Homo sapiens: one gene and its partners. The protein of the gene in region 4 interacts with the protein of the main gene of each other region in a pairwise test. Each region holds a gene or a part of one and is shown on either strand. Other genes may lie near its edges.

What was found.
Region 1: the proteins of UQCRB (region 4) and LARP4B interact in binary tests that used the Homo sapiens proteins (3 or more experiments, as listed by UniProt).
Region 2: the proteins of UQCRB (region 4) and THAP3 interact in binary tests that used the Homo sapiens proteins (3 or more experiments, as listed by UniProt).
Region 3: the proteins of UQCRB (region 4) and ZSWIM7 interact in binary tests that used the Homo sapiens proteins (3 or more experiments, as listed by UniProt).

The regions. Positions count from the first base shown.
Region 1 is NC_000010.11:928,264-936,815, reverse strand, and holds the start of LARP4B (la-related protein 4B), read left to right. Parts: upstream 1-5,110; 5' UTR 5,111-5,388; intron 5,389-8,151; exon of another isoform or gene 8,152-8,552. Other genes in the region: keratinocyte proline-rich protein-like, read right to left, coding at 3,985-4,689. UniProt on the Homo sapiens protein: Stimulates mRNA translation.
Region 2 is NC_000001.11:6,627,130-6,634,929, forward strand, and holds the end of THAP3 (THAP domain-containing protein 3), read left to right. Parts: intron 1-1,369; coding exon 1,370-1,562; intron 1,563-2,513; coding exon of another isoform or gene 2,514-2,595; intron 2,596-3,158; coding exon 3,159-3,224; intron 3,225-5,240; coding exon of another isoform or gene 5,241-5,261; coding exon 5,262-5,366; intron 5,367-5,666; coding exon 5,667-5,948; 3' UTR 5,949-6,433; downstream 6,434-7,800. UniProt on the Homo sapiens protein: Component of a THAP1/THAP3-HCFC1-OGT complex that is required for the regulation of the transcriptional activity of RRM1.
Region 3 is NC_000017.11:15,975,236-15,983,485, forward strand, and holds the end of ZSWIM7 (zinc finger SWIM domain-containing protein 7), read right to left. Parts: intron 5,910-8,250; coding exon 5,805-5,909; intron 2,929-5,804; coding exon 2,812-2,928; 3' UTR 1,325-2,811; downstream 1-1,324. Other genes in the region: ADORA2B (adenosine receptor A2b), read left to right, coding at 1-107. UniProt on the Homo sapiens protein: Involved in early stages of the homologous recombination repair (HRR) pathway of double-stranded DNA breaks arising during DNA replication or induced by DNA-damaging agents. Required for meiotic progression, hence for fertility.
Region 4 is NC_000008.11:96,221,842-96,226,545, reverse strand, and holds the end of UQCRB (cytochrome b-c1 complex subunit 7), read left to right. Parts: 3' UTR 1-3,599; downstream 3,600-4,704. UniProt on the Homo sapiens protein: Component of the ubiquinol-cytochrome c oxidoreductase, a multisubunit transmembrane complex that is part of the mitochondrial electron transport chain which drives oxidative phosphorylation.

The DNA of each region.
Region 1 (8,552 bases), on a different chromosome or scaffold from region 4:
AGTGGCTTTTGTGGCTGGAGATACTCCACAGCAAAACCTTCTAAGGGTCTTTCTTGCCTCATAGTAAATCTGGTTTTTTGTTGTTTTTTGGGGGGCGGACAGTTTCACTCTTGTTGCCCAGACTGGAGTGCAATGGCACGATCTCGCTCACTGCAACCTCAGCCTCCTGGGTTTAAGCAATTCTTCTGCCTCAGCCTCACGAGTAGCTGGGACTACAGGCGACCGCCACCACGCCCAGCTAATTTTTTTGTATTTTTGCTAGAGACAGGTGTTTCACCATGTTGGCCAGGCTGGTCTCGAACTCCTGACATTAGATGATACACCCGCCTCGGCCTCCCAACATGCTGGGATTATAGGTTTGAGCTACTGTGTCTGGCCTGCCTCGTAGTAAATCGTGACTCACTGCCTCCTTCTTCCCACCTGTGTCCTTCTCGTGGATGGTTTGTCTCTGGCCCCGGCTTAGTCATCATTTTCTGGTTCCTTCTTAAGTTGGCTTGGACCCCGCTTGTGAGCCACCCAAGCACTCTACACAGCCTCACCTCACCCTCCATCCCTCATCCTCACCCTCCATCCCTCGTTACCTGCTTCTCATCTGTGATGCTCCCCTGATCTCTGCAACATTAGCAGTCCCTGAGACCGCGTAGGTACTCAGTGAATATTTGTTTAATCAATGGGCAAAGGAATAGTCCTAAATCATCAAAAATGAATTTTTGAGCAATGCGGCTACACATTGGAGAAGTAGTGTTTATTTTTTCACAGAAAATGCTTCGGGATAAAATAAAAGAATGTTCACCTGTAATCCCAGCATTTTTGGGAGGCGGAGGCAGGTAGATTACTTGAGGTCAGGAGTTCGAGACCAGCCTGACCAACATGGTGAAACCCTGACTCTACTAAAAACAAAAAACAAACAAAAAAAAAAAACAACAAAAATTAGCTGGGCATCATGGTGCATCCCTGTAATCCCAGCTACTCGGGAGGCTGAGGCAGGAGAATCACTTGAACTCGGTAGGCGCAGGTTGCAGTGAGCCAAGATTGTGCCACTGCACTCCAGCCTGGGAGACAGAGGGAGACTCAAAAAAAAAAAAAAAAAAAAGAAAAGAAAAGAAAAAAGAAAAAGAAAAGAATGTTCTCAGACACCACTTGAAATGTAGGCCTCTGCTAGAGAAATACACATGCTGTATTTGTTTGGTAGAGACTTTGTCCCAAGATCACTGCCCTCGCTGCCTCTGCCCTTGAGGCCTGACCATTTCTTTGGGATGACAGTAGTGTCAGCTGAAAATTGTATGATGTGATGTAGCTCAACAGAGCTACAAACAAGTGCTAATAATAGGGCCCAGAAGGAAAATCAACTGTCTAAAACACTTCAGTGGTTGACATTTGGGCTGTAACTTGAAAAATAAGCGAGATTCCGCCAGAAGGAGACATCCAAGTACAGGAAGCACATTTGAGGCCAGGGGACTCACATCCATTAGGACCTAAGTGCTCAGGCTCCAAAAGAATGCCGCCCTCGACTTCCAGAGCAGCGCAGCGTCTGGAGCTGGGGCACCTCTCCATTTCTTTGTATAGGACTGTCCACACTATGAACTGTGGACTTACCTGTCAACTGTGCAGTCTGGAGTGTAAAGTCTGTATTTTATTCAAGTGTAGACTCATCAACTCCCTCAATACCTTCAAAAATGCTCGGAAAGTGAGTGTGATTGGAAGGTAAGGATGTCTTAGGATAAGGCAGGAAAGGAAACACAGGGGGCTGGGCTGAAGACAGGCTGGGACTAGCGTGTGAAGGGTCTTCTTTCCACAGGAGAACTTGGACTTTATCCTCCTGGGCAGGCAACGGGGAGCCGGTGAAGGTCGCATTGCAGGAGGATGGTGATGAAGCTTTTTAAGGAAACATGTGCTGGCACTGTGAGTAATGGACTGTAGCAGAGACCAACCGCGACGCCACTGAATCAAACCAGGTGAGCAGTAACAACGGCAAAACCACTGGGGGGACGGGGAGAAGGAAAGAGTTTTTAGGTAGGATTGACAGAATTTGTAACCACTTGACATGGGAAATGAGGGAGTGTATCTGATCATGGTTTGAGAAATTTATACTAAAGTTTTAAAAAACTGATCTTGTCTAAGGAGAGATGCCATGAAAATGTATTTCATGTTATAACCTCACATCTCAAGGTGAAAATGGATGTTTCTTCTGAGACACAGGTTTGAAAAAAAGAAGATCATGAGGGAACAAAAAGCCCAGTTCTGATTGTTGGAAAGGATTACACAATACGAAGAGAAAGAAGAGATGGAATTCTTTTAGTTTTAGTTTTTTTCTTTTTCTTTTTTTGAGACAGGGTCTCGCTCTGTCACCCAGGCTGGAATGCGGTGGCACAATCACAGCTCACTGCAGCCTCAACCTCAAGCGATCCTCCCACCTCAGCCTCCTGAGTAGCTGGAACCACAGCCATGCACCACATGCCCGGCTACTTTTGTATAATTTTTTAAAGAAATGGGGCTTTGACATATTGCCCAGACTGGTCTTGAACTCTTGGCCTTGGGCGATCTGCCTGCCTTGGCCTCCTAAAGTGCTGGGATTACAGGCATGAGCCACTGAACCCATCCCATTACTTTCTTTTGTAATAGGTAAGACATAGATGTCTGCTGGAATGTAGACATAGACAAAAAAGATTGAAGTTTAACCTACCAGCCGGGAACGGTGGCTCACGCCTGTAATCCCAGCACTTAGGGAGGCTGAGGCAGGCGGATCACGAGGTCAGGAGATCAAGACCATTCTGGCTAACACGGTGAAACCCCATCTCTACTAAAAATACAAAAAATTAGCTGGGCGTGGTGGCATGCGGCTGTAGTCTCAGCTACTCCGGAGGCTGAGGCAGGAGAATCACTTGAACCCGGGAGACTGAGGTTGCAGTGAGCCGAGATTATGCCACGGCACTCCAGCCGGGGTGACAGAGGGAGAGTCAGTCTCAAAAAAAAAAAAAAGTTTAACCTACCAATTTTGGGGCAGAATTCCTAGACTTATACCACATCAATGGCCCTAGCAATGTTATGAACCAAGAGTAAGCTCCTGTAGGTTATCCGTGGAGGTAAAGGAACCAGGCACCTAAGCAAGGACACTATGGCCTACTGGTCAGGGCAGGTTGTCCAGGTAAGCAAGTTTTCTGAAATATGTACATGCTTTTAATATTAAAGGAAATGTGTCTTATGTCGTTAAATGTTCTTTAAAAACATTACTATGAATATAATTATTTAACTTGCAAATTCCCTTAAAGCTAGGATGCAACAAGGTTTCACAAAGAAGGCACCCAACCTTGATGTCAACAGTCTACCCACTATGGGAAGCCGGAGAGGCTTTCTTCCAAAATGCAGAATTGTCAGCATTTGAACGCTGAGTACGAAAAATTATAAGCACAGGCTGGGTACACCGGCTCCCATCTCTAATCCCAGATTTTGGGGGCCCGAGACAGCACTCTGAGCTCAGAGTGCAGACCTGCATAGAGCAAGACCCTGTATCAAAAAACAAAATTAAAAAAGCAGTTGTAAGCACAGGTACACGGTTAACCATGAATATGGTATCCCTGAAAAGCCGTTTTAATGGGGGAACAAACCTAAAATTTGGAATAATTGATAATATGTGTATATGTAGCCAATCAGAGCAGAAACCAGAAAATCAGGCAGCAAGCTTAAGGGAAACGCAACATACTTTGTTTGGTTTCCTTTTCTTCCATAAACTGATCAGGGGTAGGTAGAGTATGCTGCTATAGTTCGGAGTCGTCACCATCCTCACGGAAACGGCAGGAGTGTGAACACCTCCCTGAGCTACCAAGAGCATCTGACTCGTTGCAACGTGGGCCCGAACCCAGCGCCTCTAGGAAACGTGGGGCCGGGGCCTTTTGGTCCCGGGTGTGGGTTGGGGGTTTGGGGAAGGGCCGGGGCCTTGATCCCAGGTGTGGGGTTGGGGATTCCGGGGCTGAGCCGAGGCCTTGGTTAGGGGTGTGGGGCGGGGGTTCGGGGCAGTGCCGGGGCCTTGGTCCCGGGTGTGGGGTTGGGACTTCGGGGCCGGGACCTTCGTCTCAGGTGTGGGGCGGGAGTTCGGGACAGGGCTGGGGCCTGGGTCCCTGGTGGGGCGTTCGGGGCAGTGCCGGGGCCTTGGTCCCGGGTGTGGGGTGGGAGTTTGGGGCAGGGCCGGGGCCTGGGTCCCGGGTGGGGCGTTCGGGGCAGGGCCGGGGCCTTGGTCCCGGGTGTGGGGTGGGAGTTTGGGGCAGGGCCGGGGCCTGGGTCCCCGGTGGGGCCTTCGGGGCAGGGCCGGGGCCTTGGTCCCGGGTGTGGGGTGGGAGTTCTGGGCAGGGCCGGGGCCTTGGTCCCGGGTGTGGGGTGGGAGTTCTGGGCAGGGCCGGGGCCTTGGTCCCGGGGGTGGGGTGAGGGGTTCGGGGCAGGGCCGGGGCCTTGGTCCCGGGTGTGGGGTGGGAGTTCGGGGCAGGGCCGGGGCCTGGGTCCCGGGTGTGGGGTGAGGTGTTCCGGGCAGGGCCGGGACCTTGATCCCAGCTGTGGGGTGGGAGTTCGGGGAAGGGCCAGGGCGTGTCCTGGGTGGCCAGGGTCGGGGCCTGGGTCCTGGGGGTGGGATGAGGGGTTCGGGGCAGGGCCGGGGCCTTGGTCCAGGGTCTGGGGACAGGCTAGGGCCGGGGTCGCCATCCGTCCTGGGCGGCGGGCAGGGGTCTTTAAGGGGCGCACGCGGTGGCGGAGGACCAGGGCCCAGCCCTCCGGAAGTCAGGGCCCACACGGCCCCCCAGCGTCAGGCGCTCCGGTCGCGCCGGGGACGGCGGGCGGGGCGGGCGGGGCGGGCGGGGCGGACGTGCGGCGTGCGCGGGGCGGGGCGATGTGCGCGCACGCGCCAATCGCAAGGCCGCGAGCAGGGTGTACGCGCGGAGAGGCCAAGAAGGCGGCGGGGCGGGCCGAGCGTCGGGTGCGCCCAATCAGCGCGCCGCAACACCATGACGTGAGGCTCTCCCGGGGCTGAGCGCCAGTCCGCGGGACCGGCGGGTGAGTGCGCGAGTTCAGGGCGCGAGGCGCGGGTCCGCGCGGGGGCGGGACTTCCGCAGGGCCCCGGAAGTGGGAGCTGTGTGTTCTCATGCGAACGGGAAGGAGCGTTGGGGATCTGGAGTCCCGGGGTTGAGACATTTTCGGGCCCGAAAGGGGAAGAATCCGCCGCCGCCGCCGCCGCCAGCTCGCGCCCGCCCTCTCCCCTACCTCCGGCCCGGCCCGGCCCGGCCGCGCCGCCTCTCCCTGCCGTCTCTCTCCTCGCCGTCCCCGCGTGTGGCGCGGCCGCCGGGCCCCGGGGTTGAGGCGAGGAGCCCGCGGGCGGCCGGTCGGGCGGGGCGGCGGCGCTGACAGGTGAGGCACCCTGGGCCGCGGCGGGCCGTCCCTCCCGGCCCAGCTCGGACCCGCGCCGCGCCGCCTGTCACTGCGCCGCCATCTTCCCGGAGGACGCGGCCGCGGCGGGCAGGGCCGGGCCTGGGCCGGGGCCGGGGCCGGGGCAGGGGAAGGCCGGGGCCGGGTTGAGGAGGACCGGGGCTAGGGCACGGGAAGGGCCAGGGCTGAGGAGGACCGGGGTCAGGGCCAGGAAAAAGCCGGGGCTGAGGAGGACCGGGGCCGGGGCAGGGGAAAACTGGGGCTGAGGATGGCCGAGGCCGGGGCAGGGGAAGGCCGGGGCCGGGGCTTAGGAGGACCCGTTGAGGCGAGGCGGGAGTCGACGGAGCTGGGTGCCCGGAAGACCGGGCCGGGGTCAGGGTCGGGAGGCCGGGGTTGGGCGAAGGCCGGCGAGGACGGGGGTCGGGCAGGGCCTGGGCGGGGCCGGGGTCGCGGGCCGCGAGCGCCCCCAGGCCGGGCGGGCGCCGGCACCCGCAGTGCGGCGCCAGCCTTGCCACTCGCTCCTCGGTCCCGCCGGAGCCCGGATAGGCGGCCGTGCGGGTGCGGGGCGGGACGGGTCATCAGGGCATCGCATTCCTTTAGAACCAGGAAGTTGGGATCCTGTTGCTCGGTGTGTGTTTGGAACGCTCCTGTTTTCCTGTTGATAGACTTGAGCAGAGGTGGATCTGAAGGAGTTAAAAAAATAAAGTCAGATGTGAAGATTGCCTGTGTTGGTCTTGGGGCTGGGATACATGGGCGGCAGAGAAGCCATCGGAAAGCTGCTGCACCTGCCTCTCAGGGTGCGCTTGGGAACGTGAAGAGTCTTTCCGTTTCAGTGCCGTTGTGCGTCGAAACTTCATGCGAATGTAATTTTGCTTTTCCCCTTATTTTTACGTAAAACGTTCTTAAAACTTGGCTGAGATGAAACTTGAGAAACCTAGCTGTAGAAAACTACCTCCTATCTGGCTTTCGTTTGAGATTCTCTAAGTGGATGCCCAATAACTTGTCTTAATAGTAAATTGGAAGTTTGAAGTTTTGGATAACTGAGAAAACAGGAAGGTTTTCCTTGACAGGGCAGTGGAGTTTGTAAGTATAAACAGTATGCGTGAGGCCTTTTTCTAGAGATGAGAGCAACTCCAAGGTGAACATTGAAGGGGACAGACAAGTTATTTTCCCTTTCGAAAGTTTTTTTCTCTTAGTTTCAGTTGTTTGAATATTTAAATGCACTTGAAATAGGTGCTGAGTTGTAGTTTGTGAAGACCACAGTGGGGAAGAGTGGTGTCCTCTTTTTTCTTGGTGGTCAGGTGGTGTGTGCAGTGTGCAATTTCCATACTTCCCCAACCTGCCTGGCGCCCCTCATTACAGTCAGGGTAATTTACAGAAGTTGAAATCGTTGTGGCTTTTCAGTTTTTTCTCCTTGTATTTAATATGCTGAAAGGCAGTTTTGTAATCAAACCATATAAGAAATAGCTTAATTGAGGTTTGCTAAGTGAAATGCGTTCCGAAAGGCATCAGATTAACAAGCTTATTATTTAATCATAAATTTAATTTGTGTACTTATCTTTGAAACTTGCATTGGTTAGAAATAAATTTTATCCGGTATTTTGAAAAGTTAATGTGAGTTGAGTTGACTTATTTATATGAAACAAAGGCATGGCTTATTCATTAGAAGTTACCCTCGTGTTGCCTACATTTTCTCAATTGTAACAGGGGGATGATGATAATCTCATTTTCTTAGGACTGTTGTAACACAAACATGGAAATGTTGTCTGGTTTTGCTATTTTCACTATTACTGATTTTTTTCTTCCCCCCCCGAGTTGGAGTCTTGTTCTGTCACCCAGGATGGAGTGCAGTGACACGATCTCAACTCACTACAACCTCCACCTCCTAGGTCTTCAAGTTATTCTCCTGCCTCAGCCCCCCGAGTAGCTGGGATTTACAGGCACATGCCACCACACCTGGCTAATTTTTGTATTTTTAGTAGAGACGGGGTTTCAGCATGTTGCCCAGGCTGGTCTCGAACTCCTGGCCTCAAGTGATCCACCTGCCTTGGCCTCTCAAAGTGTTGGGATTACAGGAGTGAGCCACTGCGCCCAGCTTACTGAATTTTTAAAATATTCTACCTTGTAGCTGTCAATCTATTAGCAGAAAGTTTTGTTTTTGTTTTTGTTTTTTTGTTTTGTTTTTTTTGGCTTGTTTACACATGTATCTGGGCAGAGAAAACAGCTTCTGAGCACAGAATGCATATTTGGAGAAAGCAGTTCCACTCTTTTTGAGTAGGAACCAGACAGAAAAAAAGATAACATGGGTACTATTCTGTAGAAGAGTAGCTGAAATTAAGTGGCAGCAAATTCAGGGAGAAATGTAATTTGGTTTAATGTTCGGGAAGATTGCCATTTTTAAAAGTGAGATTTAAAGAATTTATTGAATTTAATGCAATTTCCATAAGTAAGCACAAGTTTTGACAAGTATATATTTAAGGTGTTTTTATGAAGCAGTCTTCACATTATCTTAAAATGTAGTTCTAAAATACGTGCAGGCTGGGTGAGGTGGCTCATTCCTGTAATCCCAGCACTTTGGGAGGCCTAGGTGAGTTTAGGAGCCCAGGAGTTCACCAGCCTGGGCAACATAGAGAGACCTCATCTCTACCAAAAAATCAAAAAATTAGCCAGGCATGGTGGCTCACACCTGTAGTCCAGCTGTTGGAGAAGCTGAAGTGGGAAGATCGCTTGAGCTTGGGAGGTTGAGGCTGCAGTGAGCCATGATCCTGCCACTGCACTCCATCCTGGACAACAGTGAGACCTTGTCTCCCCCCACCCCCAAAACATGCAAATTGGGACATCAAATTGTTAATGGTGTTTACAATGAACAGTGCCTTCAGGTAGCTGCAGCTACTCTACATAGATTTGCAAGTTTTTGTAGTGATAGGCTATGGTAGATGTTACCAGCCAAGGAGTGGCTGACAAACTCCTTTCACTGTTATTTCATTGTCATGTTAAAATTCATATTTTCCGTCAAAATAGTGATAGCTAGGATTATAATCTAGGTCTTCTAATCTTAGTAACGTGTTGTCTATGTTAGGGCCTCTCAAAGTTGTAAAAAAGCTGTATAGATGTGTTACCATCAATCGATTTCATTTGTTTTTATC
Region 2 (7,800 bases), on a different chromosome or scaffold from region 4:
GTCTCCTTTGCTGGATCCTCCTTATTTCCAGCACTAAGTGTTGGAGCCCTGGGGTGTGGGCCATGGCCCAGGGGTGGCTTCTAGCCACACTTGCTCCCCAGGGGCCCATCTCACCCAGGCTTATCGGTTCCGCAGGGTTGGCCGCCACACTGACATCTCCAGATGCGTGTGGCCGCCTGTCACCCCAGCACATGGAGAGCCTAAAAAGCACCTCAAATTTAACTCCTGACATAAAAAACAAACTTCTTTTTTTGGAGACAGACTCTCACTCTGTTGCCCAGGTGGAGTGCAGTGGCGCAGTCTCGGCTCACTGCAGCCTCTGCCTCCCTGGTTCAGGTGATTCTTGTGCCTCAGCCTCCCAAGTAGCTGGGATCACAGGAGTGCGCCACCACGCTGGGCTAATTTTTGCATCTTTAGTAGAGATGGGGTTTCACCATGTTGGCCAGGCTGGTCTTGAACTCCTGAGTTGAGGCAGTCTGTCTGCCTTGGCCTCCCAAAGTGCTGGGATTACAGGCGTGAGCCACCATGCTCAGCTGCTACAAAACAAACTTCTGATCCCCTTAACCTGCCGTCCTGTAACTTAATTTTATCTCCAACATGAAACTCCTTCCTTCTCAATTTTACCATCTACAGGCAAACCTTACTGCATGGCTTTCAAAATACATCCAAGTCTGCCCTCTCATTACCACTTCCTGCCAATGCCTGGTCCCACAGCAGCCAGGGTGGACCCAGGTTCCATCTCACCTCTGTCTAGAGCCTCCAGGGACTCCCCAGCTGCTCAGGGCCCTGCGTCATGCAGTCCCCACTCCCTCTCGCTGTCTCAGCTGGACCTGCGTGAGTGGCCGTTCCTGCTGTCCCTTCTGAAGCCTGCGTCGCTTGTGCTGCCACTTCCTGCGGTCTGTGCTCAAACATCACCCCTTCAGCTGCCTCTCCTCACCACCCCAGGGCTTCCCTCTGTCTGTTCTCTGGAGCAGCTGTCATCCCCAGAAGACACCGTCCACATCTGTGTGGCTCATCACTGTGCCCCCGCTCCAGAATATCAGCTCTTGGGGGCCAGGACTGTCTCATTACCCCCCATCCCTAGCACGAAGAACAGGGCCCGGCTCCTGGTAGGCTCCTGGCAAATGTAGCATCGGAAGCAGCTCACTTGGGCTCTCTGGCCATGCTCGTGGTCTCGGGTTTCCTATTAAGAGTGCTTTAACAGCTGTGACAGAAGCTTCCAGAAATTAGATGTGATTTAATAAACCGAGAGGACTGAATGTCCACAGCTGTCCAGGGAAGTACTCTGTAGTGATGTGAAAATTCCGAATGACTCTGAGGCGCTGGGTCCAGCCTTGCTGGGCCTCACACCCCGTGCCTCTGCCCTTAGGTTTCCGTTCAGCCGCCCGGAGCTGCTGAAGGAATGGGTGCTGAACATCGGCCGGGGCAACTTCAAGCCCAAGCAGCACACGGTCATCTGCTCCGAGCACTTCCGGCCAGAGTGCTTCAGCGCCTTTGGAAACCGCAAGAACCTAAAGCACAATGCCGTGCCCACGGTGTTCGCCTTTCAGGACCCCACACAGGTAGGAGGGCACTGCACCTTCCGTCTGGTCACATCCAGCCTGCGTTGTTTACCAGCAGCTGGGGGCAGTGGGGGTGGCGGCATGTGTGGGAAAAGCCAAGGCCAAGAACTCCAGTGACAACAGCACTGTCACGCCTCTGGGGTCCACAGCCCTGTGGCCCTGCTGGCCATGACCTCGGCTTTAAGAGAAGTCATAAATTAAAGGCATTTTAAAAATGAATTATTCTATGGCTGGGTGCGGTGGCTCACGTCTGTAATCCCAGCACTTTGGGAGGCAGAGGTGGGTGGATCACCTGAGGTCAGGAATTCGATACCAGCCCAGCCAACATGTTGAAACCCCATTTCTACTAAAAATACAAAAATCAGCTGGGTGTGTTGGTGGGCACCTGTAATCCCAGCTACTTGGGAGGCTGAAGCAGGAGAATCTCTTGAACCGGGAGGCAGAGGTTGCAGTGAGCCAAGCTTGCCTTGGTGGAGGTGGGATGTGTGGGCCTGGCTCAGGAGAGGGCTCACAAAGAGTTGGATGCTGAAGCCTTGAGATCGCATGATAGGCCACAGGGGCACCCACGTGGAGTGGGCAGGCAGGGCAGTGGCGGGACAAGCCACAGGCCAGCAGCTCCCTGCATTGGTGGATTTATGGGGAGAGGAAAGGGATCCGTGAGTGGAGAGTGGAGCCGATGGGAAGAACAAAGCGGCCACGTAGCAAACACGCCCAGAGCGGCCGCCTGGGAGCCCCTGCCCCATCTGTCCTCCCCAGCACCCTTCCCAGATAGCCTCATGCAGTCTGCCTGAACCTCTTCAGGTTGGCAGTCCCTTCCTTCAGGAAGCCCTTCTGGACCCTCAAACCCCCTCTTGCCTCCGACCCCTTCCTGCCCCTCAGTCTTCCTGGCCCCTGTGGCCCCTGCTGTCCTTCCTGTTTCCCTCATTGGTTTTGTCTTCTCCCCTGGAACAGAATCTCCATGAGGGCAGGGGCTGCCTTCCCTGCTTCAGGCCCCACACCCAGGACGCTGCCTGGCACAGCCCAGGTGCTCGGGGTATGTGTCCATAGATGAACACTTTAATCACCTTCACGTATTTGTGATAACGTTTGTCCTGGAAAGATGACACTTGAGCCACTGGGAGTGGGGACGTTTGTCACTGTAGCCCTCGGTGCTTCCAGTGCCTGGTTGGTGGGGAGAAGCTGGGTACGGCCTCTGCCAGCTCTGCTTTGTGGGCCCCACCCCAGTGTGGCCCAGGGGCTGCAGGTTCTGGGTCAGTGGCACCTCGAGTGGTGAGCTGCGCTTCTGCTGCTTGCTGGCGGTCATGGGGCCAGGTGCCAGGCCCTGGGGTGACACATAGGAAGTAGATGGGTCCCTAGCTCTACAGGGACCTATTCAGGGCACTCTGACCATGATTTGAGGACATCTTTGGAGAAAGAGAAGCGCACCAAGCGGGCAGTGTGAGTTGGGCTGAGCTTCAGGTCAGTTTCATTTAGCAGCTGTTCGTTGACTGGGGCATGCAGTGGGCCGAGCAGCGGGGACAAGCATGATGCCCGAGGCCTGCCCCGAGCTCTGAGGGTTCTTGGGGTCTGCATCCACTCTGTGTGTGTCTCTTGTAGCAGGTGAGGGAGAACACAGACCCTGCCAGTGAGAGAGGAAATGCCAGCTCTTCTCAGAAAGAAAAGGTGAGTGCACCGGGCCAGGTACTTGAATGTTTAAATTATGCTGTGGGTTGAGACAGGGAGGTGGGATTTTCCCAGCAAGGCCGGCCCGCAGGGCTGTCGCCTTTCCTCATATGCCAGTTTGGATTCCCGGTTTTTCTGGAGGGAAGGCCCAAGCCTCTCAGCTTCCTTCTTTTCAATATCAAAGAATCTCAGTTGCTAGTAGGGATCGTGCCTGATTCCCTTTTTCTTTTCTTTTTTTTGAGACTGAGTCTCGCTCTGTCACCCAGTCTGGAGTGCAGTGGCATGATCTCGGCGCACTGCAACCTCTTCCAGGTTCAAGTGATTCTCTTGCCTCAGCCTCCCGAGTAGCTGGGATTACAGATGCCCGCTACCACGCCCGGCTAATTTTTGTGTTTTGAAATAGAGACGGGGTTTTACCACGTTGGCCAGGCTGGTCTCGAACTCCTGACCTCAGGTGATCCACCCACCTCTGCCTCACAAAGTGCTGGGATTATAGGTGTGAGCCACCGCGCCTGGGCCCCCACTTTTTTTTTTTTGTAGAGATAGCATCTTGCTATTTTACTCAGGCTGGTCTCAAACTACCGGGCTCAAGCCATCCTCCCACCTCAGTCTCCCAAAGTGCTGGGAGTATAGATGTGAGTCACTGCACCCAACCTTTTTCTTTGTTTTTGAGACAGGGTCTCACTCTGTTGCTCAGGCTCTGTACAGTGGTGCAGTCATGGCTCGCAGCAGCCTCAACCTCCCAGGATCAAGCCATCCTCCCACCTGAGCCTCCCAAGTGGCTGGGACCACAAGCATGTGCTACCATGCCCAGCTAATTAAAAATTTTTTTTTTTTTTTTTTTTAGAAATGGGGGTCTTGCTATCTTGCCCAGTCTGGTCTCAAACTCTTGGATTCAGGGGATTCTCCTGCCTTGGCCCCACAAAGTGCTGGAATTATAGGCGGGAGCCACCGCACCTGGCCGTGCCTGATTTCTTAAAGTTCAGTTCCAGGGCCGGGCGAGGTGGCTCACGCTTATAATCCCAGCAGTTTGGGAGGCTGAGGCGGGTGGATGTCTTGAGGCTAGGAGTTTGAGACCAGCCTGGCCAACATAGTAAAAACCCCATCTCTACTAAAAATATAAAAATTAGCCGGGCTGGGCGCAGTGGCTTGCGTCTGTATTCCCAGCACTTTGGGAGGCCGAGGCAGGCGGATCACCTGAGGTTAGGAGTTCGAAACCAGCCTGGCCAACATGGTGAAACTCCATCTCTACTAAAAATACAAAAATTCGGCTGGGCCTGGTGGCTCACACCTGTAATCCTAGCACTTTGGCAGGCTGCGGCAGGTGGATTGCCTGAGGTCAGGAGTTCGAGACCAGCCTGGCGAAACCCCGTCTCTACTAAAAATACAAAAATTTAGCTGGGCATGGTGGTGGATGCCTATAATCCCAGCTACTCTGGAGGAGAATCACTTGAACCCAGGGGGCGGAGGTTGCAGTGAGCTGAGATCGCACCACTTCACTCCAGCCTGGGTGAAAGAGTGAAACTCCATCTCAAGAAAAAAAAAAATTAGCCAGGTGTAGTGGCATGTGCCTGTAGTCCCAGCTACTCAGGAGGCTGAGGCAGAATTGGTTGAACCCGGGAGGCAGAGGTTGCAGTGAGCCGAGATCATGCCACTGCACTCCAGCCTGGGTGACAGAGTTAGATTCCGTCTCAAAAAAAAAAAAAAAAAAATTTAGCCAGGCGTGGTGGCACATGCTTGTAATTCTAGCTACTCAGGAGGCTGAGGCACGAGAATCACCTGAACCCTGGGGGTGGAGGTTGCAGTGAGCCGAGATTGCACCACTGCACTCCAGCCTAAGTGACAGAGCGAGACTGTCTCAAAAAAAAAAAAAAGTTCAGTTCCAGGGTGTGTGCTAGGGAGAAGCTGGCTGTGGAGGGGCACAGACCCTGGAGCTGGTCCCTGGCTGTTGCCACTCCCCTAGAGGGACAAGTAGCAGCTGCAGGAGGGCCCTGCATGTGCAGGGCTGTAGTGCAGACTTCACCCTGCCGTTCCCAGGTCCTCCCTGAGGCGGGGGCCGGAGAGGACAGTCCTGGGAGAAACATGGACACTGCACTTGAAGAGCTTCAGTTGCCCCCAAATGCCGAAGGCCACGTAAAACAGGTAAGACTGAGTGCAAAGGTGGTCTGTGGTTGGACACAAGATGACTTGCTCCAAACAAAATGGAAACCAGTGAGCACCCACCATGAGACCTGTGTGGCCGAGGCAGGGTGTGCAGCCTGGGTTTCAGAGCTCCCCAGTCAAATTCTCCACCATGGTGTGGGCACATCTGGATTTTGGGGGAGCAGCCCGGAGTGTCTAGCTGCCCTGGGGTTGTGCTGTGTGCGTGTCTGGTGGCCTGCTCACCATGGCCCGCCTTCCTGCTGGTGATGCAGCTCTAGGCTCTCACTCCCCTGTCCTCAGGTCTCGCCACGGAGGCCGCAAGCAACAGAGGCTGTTGGCCGGCCGACTGGCCCTGCAGGCCTGAGAAGGACCCCCAACAAGCAGCCATCTGATCACAGCTATGCCCTTTTGGACTTAGATTCCCTGAAGAAAAAACTCTTCCTCACTCTGAAGGAAAATGAAAAGCTCCGGAAGCGCTTGCAGGCCCAGAGGCTGGTGATGCGAAGGATGTCCAGCCGCCTCCGTGCTTGCAAAGGGCACCAGGGACTCCAGGCCAGACTTGGGCCAGAGCAGCAGAGCTGAGCCCCACAGGCTCCGGACGCAGAGGTGGCAGTGGCACCAGGGCCGGCAGAGCTTTGGAGCTCTGGCTGTGGACATTTTTGTCTGCTGTGGACACTGAGAAAGTTGGCCATGAGGCCTGCTTGGCCGGGGATCGAGACAGTAGCCAAGCTCCCCGGCGAGAGCCCCAATGCCGTCTGGGGGACGTTTAGAGGCGTGGCACTAGGAGTGCACATCTGTGAGCATGACAAGCTTATCCTCCCATGGTAACAGAAGTCCAGGCTGAGGCTGATTCTGGACGCTGTCCTTTCAGCACACGCAGAGCAAAGATCGTTGGAAGCCCCAGTGTGGGAGATGCTCCTCAGGGAGGAAGCCATGTGAGGGGGCTGGCTCTGTGGCGGGTGAGTGGTCCCCTCCTCCATCAGCCTGGACAGCCGCTCGGGGTTCTAAGGAGTGACTCCTGTCCCGGCCTGGTGTGAGTGGGCAGTGTAATAAAGTGTCTTTCTATACGGTGTCGCTCCCATCATCATTTTCTCTAGTGCCGTGATTCCTTCTAAGAAGACTGACTTCCGTGGCCGGGCGCAGTGGCTCATGCCTGTAATCCCAGCACTTTGAGAGGCCGAGGTGGGGAGATCACTTGAGGTCAGGAGTTCAAGACCAGCCTGGCCAACATGGTGAAATCCCATGTCTACTAAAAAAGACACAAATTAGCCAGGCGTGGTGGCACACACCTGTAGTCCCAGCTACCTGGGAGGCTGAGACAGGAGGATCAGCTGAACCCGGGAGGTGGAGGTTGCAGTGAGCCGAGATCACACCACTGCCCTCTAGTATTGTCACTGGGTGACAGAGCGAGACTCAGTCTGAAAAAAAAAACTGACTTCCTATTTTGTCTAATTTATAGCTTTAGTGAATTAAAGAAAAAAGTTCTAGCCTGATTTCCTAACTTGGGGTCTATTTATTTCTCAGGCAATGTTGTTTAATGTAGAAAATGGAACCCCAGCTTCACGTGAAGCCTTGTGGTTGAGTGAGGAGTGAAGGATGGGGAGGAGGCCTCTGGGGAAGGGGTTCCCTCCCTCCTGAAGATGAACACACAATACACGGAAGAGCGCCAGCCTCTGCTTTCAGGAAAGGTTTATTGTGGTGAGTGCCTTCTGTACAGTCGACTGCAAATGAAACGCAGAGGATGGGTGCCCAGAAGCACCTGCGGCAGAGGCGCACGGGAAGCCCGGGGCCCAGGCTCATGCAACACGACGCTCACCGCGGCTCGGGCCGTGGGGCCGTCAGAGAAACCTTTTTAAAAAATGGAGATGAATGTTACAGAATTGGACAACCCGAACTGCTTTTCAAAACCAGAGGAAGGAGGTTCTTAGCCGTTACTCAGATACCAGTGCTGGGGAGGGAGGCCTGACTTCAGCAACAGCTGTGGGTGGGCTGGAGGCCGGCGCAGCTTGGGGCCCCCCGCGCCAGCTGTCTCAGCCACCACCTGTGCGGCGCTTGCTCCGAGGGGTCAGCAAGAGCAACTGATGGCTGCCACTTCCAGGCCCCGAGAGACAGGCCTCACGTAACTTTACTGCAGCCGAGGTCCAGGCCGTGGAGGGGGTCCTAGCTCCGCTGCATTCTGCATCCCAAGTGGGCACGTGGAGGAAGGGTCTGAAGGAAGGCTCCGGAGCACAGGCCCTGGTGTTCCTGTGAGGACGCTGGACCTGCAGGAGCGGGGAGCTGCAGTGCCACCTGCTGGGTACCACGGGCCGGGCCTGGGGTCCACGCCTTTGGGTTGGGTGTGTCTGATGTCTTGCCAAGCGCCTGGTCCTGTCCTCTTGAGCTGCCCTTGCCCAGCACTGCACTCTGGAGGTGGGTGGTGCAGGCGGTGGAGGGA
Region 3 (8,250 bases), on a different chromosome or scaffold from region 4:
GCTACACTTTTCACAAAATTATCTCCAGGTATCTTCTCTGCCAAGCAGATGTCAAGAGTGGGAATGGTCAGGCTGGGGTACAGCCTGCTCTCGGTGTGGGCCTATGATCTAGGCTCTCGCCTCTTCCAGGAGAAGATACAAATCCACAAGAAACAAAGAGGACACGGCTGGTTTTCATTGTGAAAGATAGCTACACCTCACAAGGAAATGGACTGCCTCTCTTGAGCACTTCCCTGGAGCTACCACGTATCTAGCTAATATGTATGTGTCAGTAGTAGGCTCCAAGGATTGACAAATATATTTATGATCTATTCAGCTGCTTTTACTGTGTGGATTATGCCAACAGCTTGAATGGATTCTAACAGACTCTTTTGTTTTTAAAAGTCTGCCTTGTTTATGGTGGAAAATTACTGAAACTATTTTACTGTGAAACAGTGTGAACTATTATAATGCAAATACTTTTTAACTTAGAGGCAATGGAAAAATAAAAGTTGACTGTACTAAAAATGTATACTTGTTGCCAGGAAGGTGACCTCAAAAATTAAAAGTATAATTATTCGGCCGGGCATGGTGGCTCACACCTGTAATTCCAGCACTTTGGGAGGCCAAGGCAGGCGGATCACGAGGTCAGGAGTTCAAAACCAGCCTGTCCAATATAGTGAAACCCCGTCCCTACTAAAAAATACAAAAATTAGCTGGGTATGTGGCATGTGCCAGCTACTCAGGAGACTGAGGCAGGAGAATCATGTGAACTTGGGAGGCGGAGGCTGCAGTGAGCCCAGATGGCATCACTGTACTCCAGCCTGGGTGACAGAGTGAGACTCTGTCTCAGAAAAAAAAAAAAAAAAAAAAAAAAAAAAAAAATATATATATATATATATATATATATATATATATATATATATAAATAAAGTATTCAATCAAGAAACTGCTGTATTAATTTAGGGAAATGATTGATTGATAGTCTCATAAGTCAAATTTTCATCACATAATTTTAAGCTCCATTCTTTTCCATATACAGAAAACTACCCGTGGGGAAGAAACTGGTGAAATGGGATCCCTCCTCTACCAAATTCTGCCTTCTAGAGCTAGATAGATAGATAGGGAATTTTGCTTCTCTCCAAATTTCAAGTTTGGTTAAGTTCTTGGAACTCAAAGTGTGAAAATTTTATGAAGTAAAATTATTTAACTCTGTGTATATTAGGTTAAATAAAAATAAAACTTAAAAAGACAAGCTTAGGGTGCTGCATTGGCTTGTTGCATCTACCTTCTAAACTTTACCCTGAAGGCTGCTGGAAAAAAAGTAAGTTATGCTGAGTCCAAGTTTCCTGAGTAGCAGAAAAGTATTGATAAATTTTATCTGTTGCACTTTTTAACAAAACAAAAAGCATCTGCCAACCACAGAACATTGCAACACCTAGGCCCTGGGCTTTCCCCCAGCATTCATTCACTAGCACCTCATGTTTTGGGGGCACAAGCACAGGGCTTTCTTAGGCTGTAAAATCACCTATATCATCTGTCTGTCCACTGCTTCAACTCCTTCTGCAGTATCCCTGCAACAATATTACATGCTTATGAAATGCTGCAGACAGGGAATTCCTGTCCTTCTAGGATCCTCTTCTGGCTGTGGGCAGCTTTACCATAAGTTCTTGTCTTCTTATGCTGAAATTGATTTCATTTTCATCTTCACGTATTATTGCTTCTTTGCTCTCTCGGTGTCCAACTGAGTCTCATCGCTCTCCCTTCTAATACTCCTTCTGTCATCTATTTTGTCTTTTCTTCTTCAGACTGAAAATCCCTGGTAGTACCTGTAGTTTCCTTCCAGGACACGATTTTTAGTCTGTTCCTTCAATTGCCCTGTTGTAAAGATCAGAAGTGCAGAGTGAAACCAGTTCTTCCCTTGTTCTCGATACTAACTCTCAAACAATACAGTCTACTTAAGCTGTTTTGGCACAAGCATCACAGATATTTGAAGCTTACAGAAACCAGAACCTCTAAGTCTTTTCATACCTGCTACTGTTTAGCCACATCTCTGCTCTGATCTTCTGTTGCTGCTCAATAGTTTCCTGGACCCAAGGAAAAGAACTGACCTACTCGTCGAAACTTCATCTTACTGTTTGGCCCACCATTCCAACCTTTTAAAAATTACTAGTAATTCAGTTAGTTACTTAAGACTAAATAGGGTCAGGCGCAGTGGCTCATGCATGTAATTCCAGCACTTTGGGAGGTCGAGGCGGGCAGACCACTAGGTCAGGAGATGGAGACCATCCTGGCTAACACGGTGAAACCCCATCTCTACTAAAAAAAAAATACAAAAATTTAGCCGGGCATGGTGGCGGGTACCTGTAGTCCCAGCTACTCGGGAGGCTGAGGCAGGAGAATGGCGTGAACCCGGGAGGCGGAGCTTGCAGTGAGCTGAGATCACGCCACTGCACCCCAGCCTGGGCGACAAAGTGAGACTCCATCTCAAAAGAAAAAAAAAAAGACTAAATAATGTGGACACAACATGATATTAGGCTTTATTTGAATTTAAAATCTTGATTCCATCCAGGGACATTTTTTACCGAAGCGTCTCAGAGACTGGCTCAGGGTATTTCTTGACAAGACTGTACAGGGCTTCTCATCATACACAAACCCTCCACAGCCCACGGCTCCAACCCACAGCACCTCCTGCAGTCCTGGAGGGAAAAGGGACAGTAACATGAAGTGTCTGAAGATCCATTTCACCTCTTTTCCATGTGAATCATGACGCTTTCAATGCATTTCTTGACAGGATTCTATTTTGAAAGAATGATGCTCAATCTGTACCTTTTATGCTTCTTGTTTCTTCTCCATCAATAATATGTCAGTCAACTGCTTGTCAGAGACACTTAGCTGCTGACAGGTCCTCATAACCTGACTCAGGTAAACTGCCAAGAGATGCTTGCACTGGAATATAAAACACACACACCTATTAGAAACAGGCAGGGCCAGGGCTGGCCAGTCTAACCAAGATTTCTCATTACCATCTTATTTGGCAGGAGAAGACTAGAGCATACAGATTACGGGGTCTCTAACTGATTGTCTAAAAAGTGCAGATGGGCCGGGCATGGTGGCTCACACCTGTCATCCCAGCACTTTGGGAGGCTGAGGCGGATGGATCACTTGAGATCAGGAGTTCGAGACCAGTCTGGCTGATATGGCAAAACCCTGTCTCCACTAAAAATACAAAAATTAGCTGGGTGTGGCGGTACATGCCTGTAATTCCAGCTACTCAGGAGGCTGAGCCATGAGAATCGCTTGAACCCAGGAGGTGGAGGTTGCAGTGAGCCGAGATCACGCCACTGCACTACAGCCTGGGTGACAGAGCCAGACTGTCTCAAAAAATAAATAAATAAAAACTGCAGATAAAGATGATGAGACAGGAGTATTCTCTTTAGAAATCAGAGTGGACACAGACTTACTTTGCCTGCTGCTTTGGGAAATGGCTTAGATCCATCAGGCACAAGGTATGTAACCCATGGTGAAAACCCAGACTACCTGCACTCCTCACGTTAGTCCTAAGTTATATTTCTTCCTTGCCTTCAGAAAGCTGTCACAGCAATGGTTAACATTCCTTGAGGCACTAGGCTGTGAAGTGCTTCTCATAGATTATCTCACTGAAATCTGACAGCTCCCTAGGAAGACAGGTATTGTAACCACATGCTCATCAGAGTCTCTAGGCTACTCTCTCTTTTTTTTTTTTTTAATTTTAATTTTAATTTTTGTTTTATTTATTTATTTATTTATTTTTATTGATCATTCTTGGGTGTTTCTCACAGAGGGGGATTTGGCAGGGTCATAGGACAATAGTGGAGGGAAGGTCAGCAGATAAACAAGTGAACAAAGGTCTCTGGTTTTCCTAGGCAGAGGACCCTGCGGCCTTCCGCAGTGTTTGTGTCCCTGGGTACTTGAGATTAGGGAGTGGTGATGACTCTTAACGAGCATGCTGCCTTCAAGCATCTGTTTATCAAAGCACATCTTGCACCGCCCTTAATCCATTTAACCCTGAGTGGACACAGCACATGTTTCAGAGAGCACAGGGTTGGGGGTAAGGTCACAGATCAACAGGATCCCAAGGCAGAAGAATTTTTCTTAGTACAGAACAAAATGGAAAGTCTCCCATGTCTACTTCTTTCCACACAGACACAGCAACCATCCAATTTCTCAATCTTTTCCCTACCTTTCCCTGCTTTCTATTCCACAAAACCGCCATTGTCATCATGGCCCGCTCTCAATGAGCTGTTGGGTACACCTCCCAGACGGGGTGGTGGCCGGGCAGAGGGGCTCCTCACTTCCCAGTAGGGGTGGCCGGGCAGAGGCGCCCCTCACCTCCCGGACGAGGCGGCTGGCCAGGCGGGGGGCTGACCCCCCCACCTCCCTCCCGGACGGGGCGGCTGGCTGGGCGGAGGACTGACCCCCCCCACCTCCCTCCCGAATGGGGCGGCTGGCCGGGCAGAGGGGCTCCTCACTTCCCAGTAGGGGCGGCTGGGCAGAGGCGCCCCTCACCTCCCGGATGGGGCGGCTGGCCGGGCGGGGGGCTGACCCCCCCACCTCCCTCCCGGACGGGGGGCTGACCCCCCCACCTCCCTCCCGGACGGGGCGGCTGGCCGGGCGGGGGGCTGACCCCCCCACCTCCCTCCCGGACGGGGGGCTGAACCCCCCACCTCCCTCCCGGACGGGGCGGCTGGCCGGGCAGAGGGGCTCCTCACTTCCCAGTAGGGGCAGCCGGGCAGAGGTGCCCCTCATCTCCCGGACGAGGCGGCTGGCCGGGCGGGGGGCTGACCCCCCCACCTCCCTCCCGGACGGGGCGGCTGGCCGGGCAGAGGGGCTCCTCACTTCCCAGTAGGGGCGGCCGGGCAGAGGCGCCCCTCACCTCCCGGACGAGGCGGCTGGTCTAGGCTACTCTCTTAACTACTGTGTTATACTTCTGGGGTTGGGGGGCGGGGAGTAGTGGCAAAACTCTTGCATATATTGGCCTGTACACACCTCTGGGGAGATGATTGCGTTGAATCTGATGTCAGAGAACACAGCTTTAGATCTTGAAGGGGTTTTGGTTCAATCCTGTCTCTTGCAGTTGAGATACACTTAGGGCACATCAGTTACGAATGTGGCCTCTTGGACAATGCTATACCCAACTTGCCAGCCAGGTCCCAAGATGTTTAAGAAGTTAACAGTGTAAAAGAAAGGGAAAGAATGGAGTGGACATCATTATTTTCTTCTTTCGCAAGACTTAGAAAACAGCTGCCTGCTTTCAGGAAGGTAGTGTTTTTTCCTTTGGAATAAGGTGTGTGTGAGTATGTCCTGTTTCTGCTTCATGGTCTGGACTCTGATGAAATTGGCAAAGGCTTAAAGGAATAGGTGAAGGTACTCATGCCCCATGTGAAGGTCAAGTGTGGTGTCAGGCTGTCTCACAGGTAGTGCAAAGATATACCACATGGCTGAAAGTAGGATATGCAAAGTTGTCAACATCGAATTTAGTTCATATTTTTATGGGGCCATCTAATTCCCCAGTGCCCACTTCTGGGATTCCCTTTTTTTCCTTCTCAAAGCTTCACTCATGATCTTTTACATAAAAATTCAGGAAATTGATGCAGTTCTAAAAATGACATTGCATTTTGAGAGGCTAAACCCCTAAGAGGTGACTAACTGAAGACAAAGACAAAAAACTACCATTTGTTTCAACATATAATAAGATTCCCATTTTGTAGAATAGTTAAACCACAAAGTAAGGGCAATTTCTCTCTACATTCAACTACAGTGGGAAGAGTCTTCCCCATCCTCACCAGGATGCTGTCACTCTTCCGTAGCACTGAGAATGCAAATGCAGGACATGAACAGTAATGACAAGAAGCCAAACATGTGTATGTTTTACTGGAACTTCCAAGGACCTACAAAGAAAGGATAGATGGGATCAGACCTCAGATGTGCTGGAAAAACCACCTCTTTCCCTTTTTATTTATGTAGACTCAGAGTTGCTCTGCAAATTGCACCGAGAAGAACTGCAGTAATGTTTTACATAAAAGAGGAAACAACTTCTCTTCCTCCAGTGTACAGACTCTCCCTTCCTCACCTCTCAGTGCTCACCTTTAGGACAGCATATAAAGGAACTGAAGAGTTTCAGATTAGTTCAACCAACCACATAAACCATTCTGTTCCTACGCCTAGTGATTCATGGGGCCCACTCTATGGGCTGACTGTAATAAGAAGGAAGTGGGGGGGGGGAATCTCTCATCTACATTTTATTGTGGGGGTTCTTAACCTTTGGTATTTCACAGCAGGTGTATAAATTTCTAAAGCTTCCTACATACCTAAAGAGAGAGTAAAAACAGGCAAAGGGTCAGTAGCAGGGCAGGAGTAAGATAAGTCTCAGGCCGGGTGTGGTGGCTCAAAGCCTGTAATCCCAGCACTTTGGGAGGTCGAGGTGGGAGGATCACTTGACCCCCCCCAGAGTTCAAGACCAGCATGGGCAACATGGTGAGACCTCGTTTCTATAGAAAAAAAAATTTTTTTAAAGTCAGGTATGGTGGCACATGCCAGTAGTCCCAGCTACTCAGGAGGCTGAGAAGGGAGGACTGCTTGAGCCTGGGAGGTCAAGGCTGCAGTGAGCTGTGACTGCACCACTGCACTGCAGCCTGGGTGACAAAGATCCCATCTCTAAAATAAAGATAGGTCACAGAAGAACAAAAGAAGAAACTGGGAAGAGGCTTTTGAAAAGCATTTGAGAGCAGAGAGAATAAATAAAGCAAAGACCCTTGCGAAAGGAATGACTCAGCTGTTCAGGATGGAGGTCTCAGGAAAAGAGGCAGGCCCAGATCTGCCTACTCATCTAGCAGGATGGAAGGAGGACACTGATACATAGTGGGTTGATAAGAGGCACAGTCTAACAGTCTTGGTGGTGGTCAAGAGGGACAAAAAGGAGAGGTACAGGAGAAACAAGACACATCTGTAGTATGATCGCACAAATTTGCTGGAGAAATCCTTTGTTTAAGTCTCTCTACCACCAAGCAGCCAAAAACTTTTTGTTGAGGTCTTCATTCCTAGAGTTAACTTCCCACCTGGAGGCGTAAGATTATTATTAGTATCTGAGGGAAGCAGAAATGTCCTGAGGGTGATTTTATAATGAACTGCCACTTAGGAATTTGCCACACAGCCTTCAAAGCACTTTTAGGCTCTCAGATGGCAATCTAAATGAAAAAGCAAGGACTTTTAAATTTTTTTTGAATTACAATGTTAGCACTCCTAGGATTCTTTAATCTTTCTTACCCACAGAGAATAAAGCTACAGGTATGGTTTGACTGCAAGAACAAACAGCAGGTTCCACTGCTGTGCTTTTGTCACATTTTCAGTGGTTCATATAATGCAGTTATCCCAGTACAGCTTTTATTAACATTTTTTTTTAATTTTTGTTTTTTGGAGACAGGATGTTGTTCTGTCATCCAGGCTGGAGTACAGTGGCAGATCATAGCTCATTGCAGTCTTGAATCCCTCGGCTAAAGTGATCCTCCCACTTCAGTCTCCTGAGGAGGTAGGAGTACTGGTGTGCGCCACCACCCTATGCTAATTTTAAAATTTTTTTTGTAGAGATGGGGTCTTGCTATGTTGTCCAGGCTGGTCTTTAACTGCTGGGCTTAAGTGATCCTCCCACCTTGGCCTCCCAAAGCACTGGGATTACAGGCATGAGCTACCACACCCAGCCTCAGTATGGTTTTTTGACGCAGTCAGAATTCCTCGGGAGATTTTAGGTTACCAGAAATAGCCAATGATTGGGTAAGAAGATGCCTACTGAACACATTCAAGATTTCAGTTCAGGCCGGGCATAGTGGCTCACGTCTGTAATCCCAGCACTTTGGGAGGCTGAGGCGGGTGGATCATGAGGTCAGGAGTTCAAGACCAGCCTGGTCAATATGGTGAAACCCCATCTCTACTAAAAATACAAAAATTAGCCAGGTGTGGTGGCGGGTGCCTGTAATCCCAGCTACTCAGGAGGCTGAGGCAGGAGAATCACTTGAACCCGGGAGACAGAGGTGGCAGTGGGCCAAGACTGCATCACTGTACTCCAGCCTGGGTGACAGGGCAAGACTCTGTCTCAAAAAAAAAAAAAAAAAAAAAAAAGATTTCCACCCAGTTACAAATTAGGTGTTGAAAAAGCACACCTTGCATATTACCTACTGCAAGGCTCTGATGTGTTATGAACATATCACCGAGACCATTCAGTATCAATGGAGAGAT
Region 4 (4,704 bases):
ATTTTTCTCTTATGCATGCATTTAAAATGTGGTTTGCCATTAAACTGGAAACACTGATCTGAGGCCAATGATTTAGGCAAGTCATTAGTCTAAAGATTGGCTTCCTCAGCTAGAAAATGAAGGGCTTTGACTAAAAAGTCTTTTTCATTTCAGTACCAAAACATTCTGGGTCTGTGATTTAACTTACGCTCTTTATTGTTGGGATGAACTAATACTGATGGAATACTAGCTTTGTACTAGGCACTGTTCGTATGTTGTCTCTTTTAATCCTCCCTGCAACCTTCTGGCATGGCTATTATAATGCCCATTGTATGGAAGAAGAAATTAGGCTTCGAAAGTCCATTTTATGCTTGTTCATTACATAATTTTCTGGATTTTTTAAATTGATGTATGTGTTTATGTTCCAGGCTAGGCAGAAGCTAGGAAGAATATAGCAGCCTCGTCACTGTTGAAATCTGGGGCTAGATAATTCTTTGTTGTGGGGGCCTCCTCTGTGTGTTACAGGATATTTAGCAGCATCCTGGCTTCTACACGATAGGTACCAGTAGCGCCTCCTGCCTCCAACTGTAACAACCAAAAATGTTTTGAGACATTGTCTGGAAATGTTCCCCTGGGGGAGCAGAATTGCTCCCAGCTAAAAACCACCAGTGTAGGGAATACAGAGAAAAACCAAGATGGTAGAGACAGGTATGTAATCAGATGCATGAATATGTAAACATAGATGTACATACTGTGTGAATTGTCCACAAAAAATATGTACTGGGTACTATGGAAACATGGAGAAGGTAAACTAACTAAACCTGGATGGGAATCAGGGCCTCTGATAATGTGGCTGATTCCAGAACAGTAAGCAAAGTTAGCTAAGCCAAGAAGATGGTGAAGGGCTTTCCAAGCAGAAGAAAATGAGCAGGAAATGCTCAAAGGCATGGAAGTGCAGGATGTATGTCTAGGGAAGGACAGGCAGTTTTGCACTGATGGAGTGGCAAATATCAGCTGGAGAGACATGGGAGATGCAACCTGAAAGGTGTACGCCATATTGAGATGCCTGGACTTCATCCTGTGAGCAGCAGAGTGTTTGGATAGATTCTGGGAAGTGAAAATGTTGGGGCAAAGGGGATGAATATTTGAAGTTTTTCAATACTGGACTTCCAATTTGCTTTTCAAAAGTTTATAATAATTTATATTCATCTAAGCAATCACGAGGGTCCCTTTATTGCATTCCTGCCTGCACTGAGTGCTCTCATTAAAAGCAATCTTTGTGAATTTGGTTGGAGAGTTTCTTGTTTAAACTTGCATTTCTTGGATTGAGTAGCTAGACGTTTTTCCATATGCTATTATCAAGTTGTTATTTCTCTTTCATCAATCTTGTTCATGTCCTTCACCTATGGGCCTATTTTTAATTTTCACAGCCTTTTCCTTATTTGTTTAGTTTTCCTCTTAGCTCCCTCTTCCCCCTTCCCAAACCTGGGTCAGTTCTTATCTATTTGTATGAGACCTTTATATGTTTAGATAGTACCCCTTTTACTTACATTTGCTGAAATGATATTTTTATTTCATCGTTTGAATTTTATTTGAGGTTTTTTGGATGCCTTTTCAACTTTGTTCATGGTGGGTTTTGTCAAATGGAAGTTTCTGATTTTTATGTAGTACAAACTCTCAGTCCTCTCCTCTGTGGTTTTGCCTCTGAGGTCATGCTTTGAGAAGTCCTCTCTTTACTCCAAGTTTTCATAAATATCCAGCAAGGTTTCATCCAGTACTTTTAGGTATAAGAAACAAAACCATAAATCTTCAATCCCTCTGGAGTTTAGGGATATGGTGTGAGCAGAGTATATTTTTGAGAGATACTAAGAAGTCCAGTTGGCCTGACTGGATATCAGTTAGATGTGTAAGAGGTGGATGTGAGGAAGGGTAAAAGAGAGAGGTCCGGAGGGGCTCCACAAACACGGGTCTGTTGAGGGTGATGCAGCCTGGTAATCAGCCCCTTCTGTGGCTTCTCATTCTGTGAGACGTTGGCTGTGCTGCATATTCTAAATCTACTCTTGTCCCTTCTGGATTCAGCTCTGTACCCCAGGAGAGATAAATTGATGTAAAGACTGCACAAATAGACACTTTTGCCTTCTGGCTTCTGGCTTGGGCTTGGCCAGCCAGTGTGGGGAGGGTGGCCACCTGCAAGAGAGGGCAGATGAGAGAGACAGAGATATTTATTCCCCAGCCCACGTTCCTCTGAAGAAAGCTACAGCTCCTGTCAGGCAGCCCCTCTCAAGATTCCTACAGCTCTCCCTTCCATCCCTCCCCACTCTGCTATCTCTATCAAAGTTGGTTCTCCTTGACCTTGCCTGCCGTTTGTTAATTGTCCCTTCATTGGACATTCTTTGGTTTGCCTGATTGGGTGTGCCACACTTTCCTGCCAGGACTCTGACTCACACAGAACTGGGCTGCCCTTGAGAATGGCTAGGTTGCCCCATGAGAGCACCAAGTGCTGCTACTTGGAACTGGTTTGTGGTCAGTTCCTGGAAAACCAAAGCTTGCTTCTTTGAGGTAAGCTAACTCATGCCCCAGAGTCAGACTCCAGGAGACCACACTAGTTCCAGTTGAAGGGAGTGGCCTTCCAAAGCCTGGCTTCTACCACCCCCACCTGTCTGCCTCTACCCATGATAGATCTGCTTCCAATCAGAGACTTACTCTTCTACACAATTTAATGCAGGTAAATGCCAGTGCTAAAAAGATGCCATATGATAGAAAACAGAAGGTTTGTCCATTCTGAAAACATTGTGTTCTCTTTCCTCCTGTTTTAACTCCCTCTTCCCCAAACACATTCTGCAAAATTCTACCTCTAACCTTTTTTCCTTCTATTCTCAGTCCCCTGCAATGGCACTTGCAATCCTCACCATACTCTGTCTAAATTCTAGCTTTACTTTAAGACAAAAATTAAATTCTGCCTACTGAGAGAAGCTCTTTGTCAACCCCAGGCACTTGACATTTCTATTTTCTTTGACTTTGTAAAGCACTTACTACTTCAACCAATCATTTACTATTTAACAATAATAAATACTATTTACCTAGTGTTCACTGTGGGCCATTTCAGGTTTCATTTATTCCTTGAAAATTTTTCCAAGGTGAGCACAATTATCCTCTTTTCATAGAGGCTCAGACATGTTAGGTAACGGGTACAAGATCACACTTTGCAAGTGAGCAAATGGAAAGTTAAATTCTGTCTTCCTTGAAATTGCTATGTTGTCTTTTCTTTTTTATTTAAGGTGTACAGCATGATGTTTTGATACAAATATACATAGTGAAATGATTACTACAGGCAAGCAAATTAAAATATCCATTACCACGATAGTACTTTGTGTATGTGTGTCTGGTGAGCACCTAAAATCTACACTTTCAGCAAATTTTTAGTGTACAATATAATTATAGTCACCATGCTGTACATGAAATCTCTAGACCTGTTCATCTTGTATAATTGCAAGTTTGTGTATCCTTTGACCTACCTCTCCCCATTTCCTGATCCTTCCCACTCTGGAAACCACCATTCTTCTCTGTTTCTATGTATTTGACATGTTTTAGATTGCACAAATAAATAAGATCATGCAGTATTTCTCTTTCTGTGTCTGGCTTATTTCAGTTAGCATAATGTCTTCCAGGTCATCCATGTTGTCACAAATGGCAGTATCTTATTATTTTTTAAGGCTTAATAACATACCATTGTGTGTGTGTGTGTGTGTGTGTGTGTGTGTGTGTGTGTGTGACAATTTTTTCATTCATCTGTTGGCAGACACTGGTTGTTTCCATGTCTTTACTATTGTGAATAATGCTGCATCGAACATGTGGGCACAGATGCCTTCTGAGATGGTGGTTTCATTTTTTGGAGGTATATATCCAGAACTGGGATTGCTGGATTGCATGGTAGTTCTACTTTTAATTTTTTGAAGAATGTCCATACTGTTTTCCATAATGGCTGCATGAATCTACATTCCCACCAACAGTGCACAAGCACTGTCTTTTCTCTACACCCTCACCAACACTTGTTATCTCCTGTCATTTTCATAGTAGTTACCCTCATAGGTGTAAAAGGATATTTCTTTGTGGTTTTAATTTGCATTTCCCTGATGATTAGTGATAATGAGCACCTTTTCACGTACCTTTTGGCCATTTTCATGTCTTCTTTAGGAAGATGTCTATTCAGGTCCTTTGCCCATGCTTTAATCAGGTTATTTTATTTTTTATTTTGTCTTTTCAACAATGCTGTCCCACACTTACCTTTATTTTTACAAACTCAATTCCATTTTGTACTCATCTTTTGTTTATACTTTTCTTTCTAAACTCTATTTCTTAAATGAAATCTTTAGTTGTGAAAGTAGAGTGATCATGCTGTCTCTGAGGAGATGACATTTGAACGTTGGAGAGGAGCCACCGCAGGAAGCCCTGGTTCTTTAGGTGGGCTGTGCAGAGAATCACCTGGGAAGCTTCAAAACAAACAAGCAAACAAACCCCAAATAACCTGATGCCTGGGTCTGACCGCCAGAGTTTCCACATTAATTGGTTTGGGAAGCAGCCTGGGATGCAGATGGTCCTAATGTGTAATTGAAGCTGATAAACATTGATCTAGAAAAGAACATTCTTGGCAAAGAGGACAGTGAGTGCAAAGGGCCTGTGGTAGGAATGAGCTGGGGGTGGCTGAGAAGGAGTTGACAGAGAAGG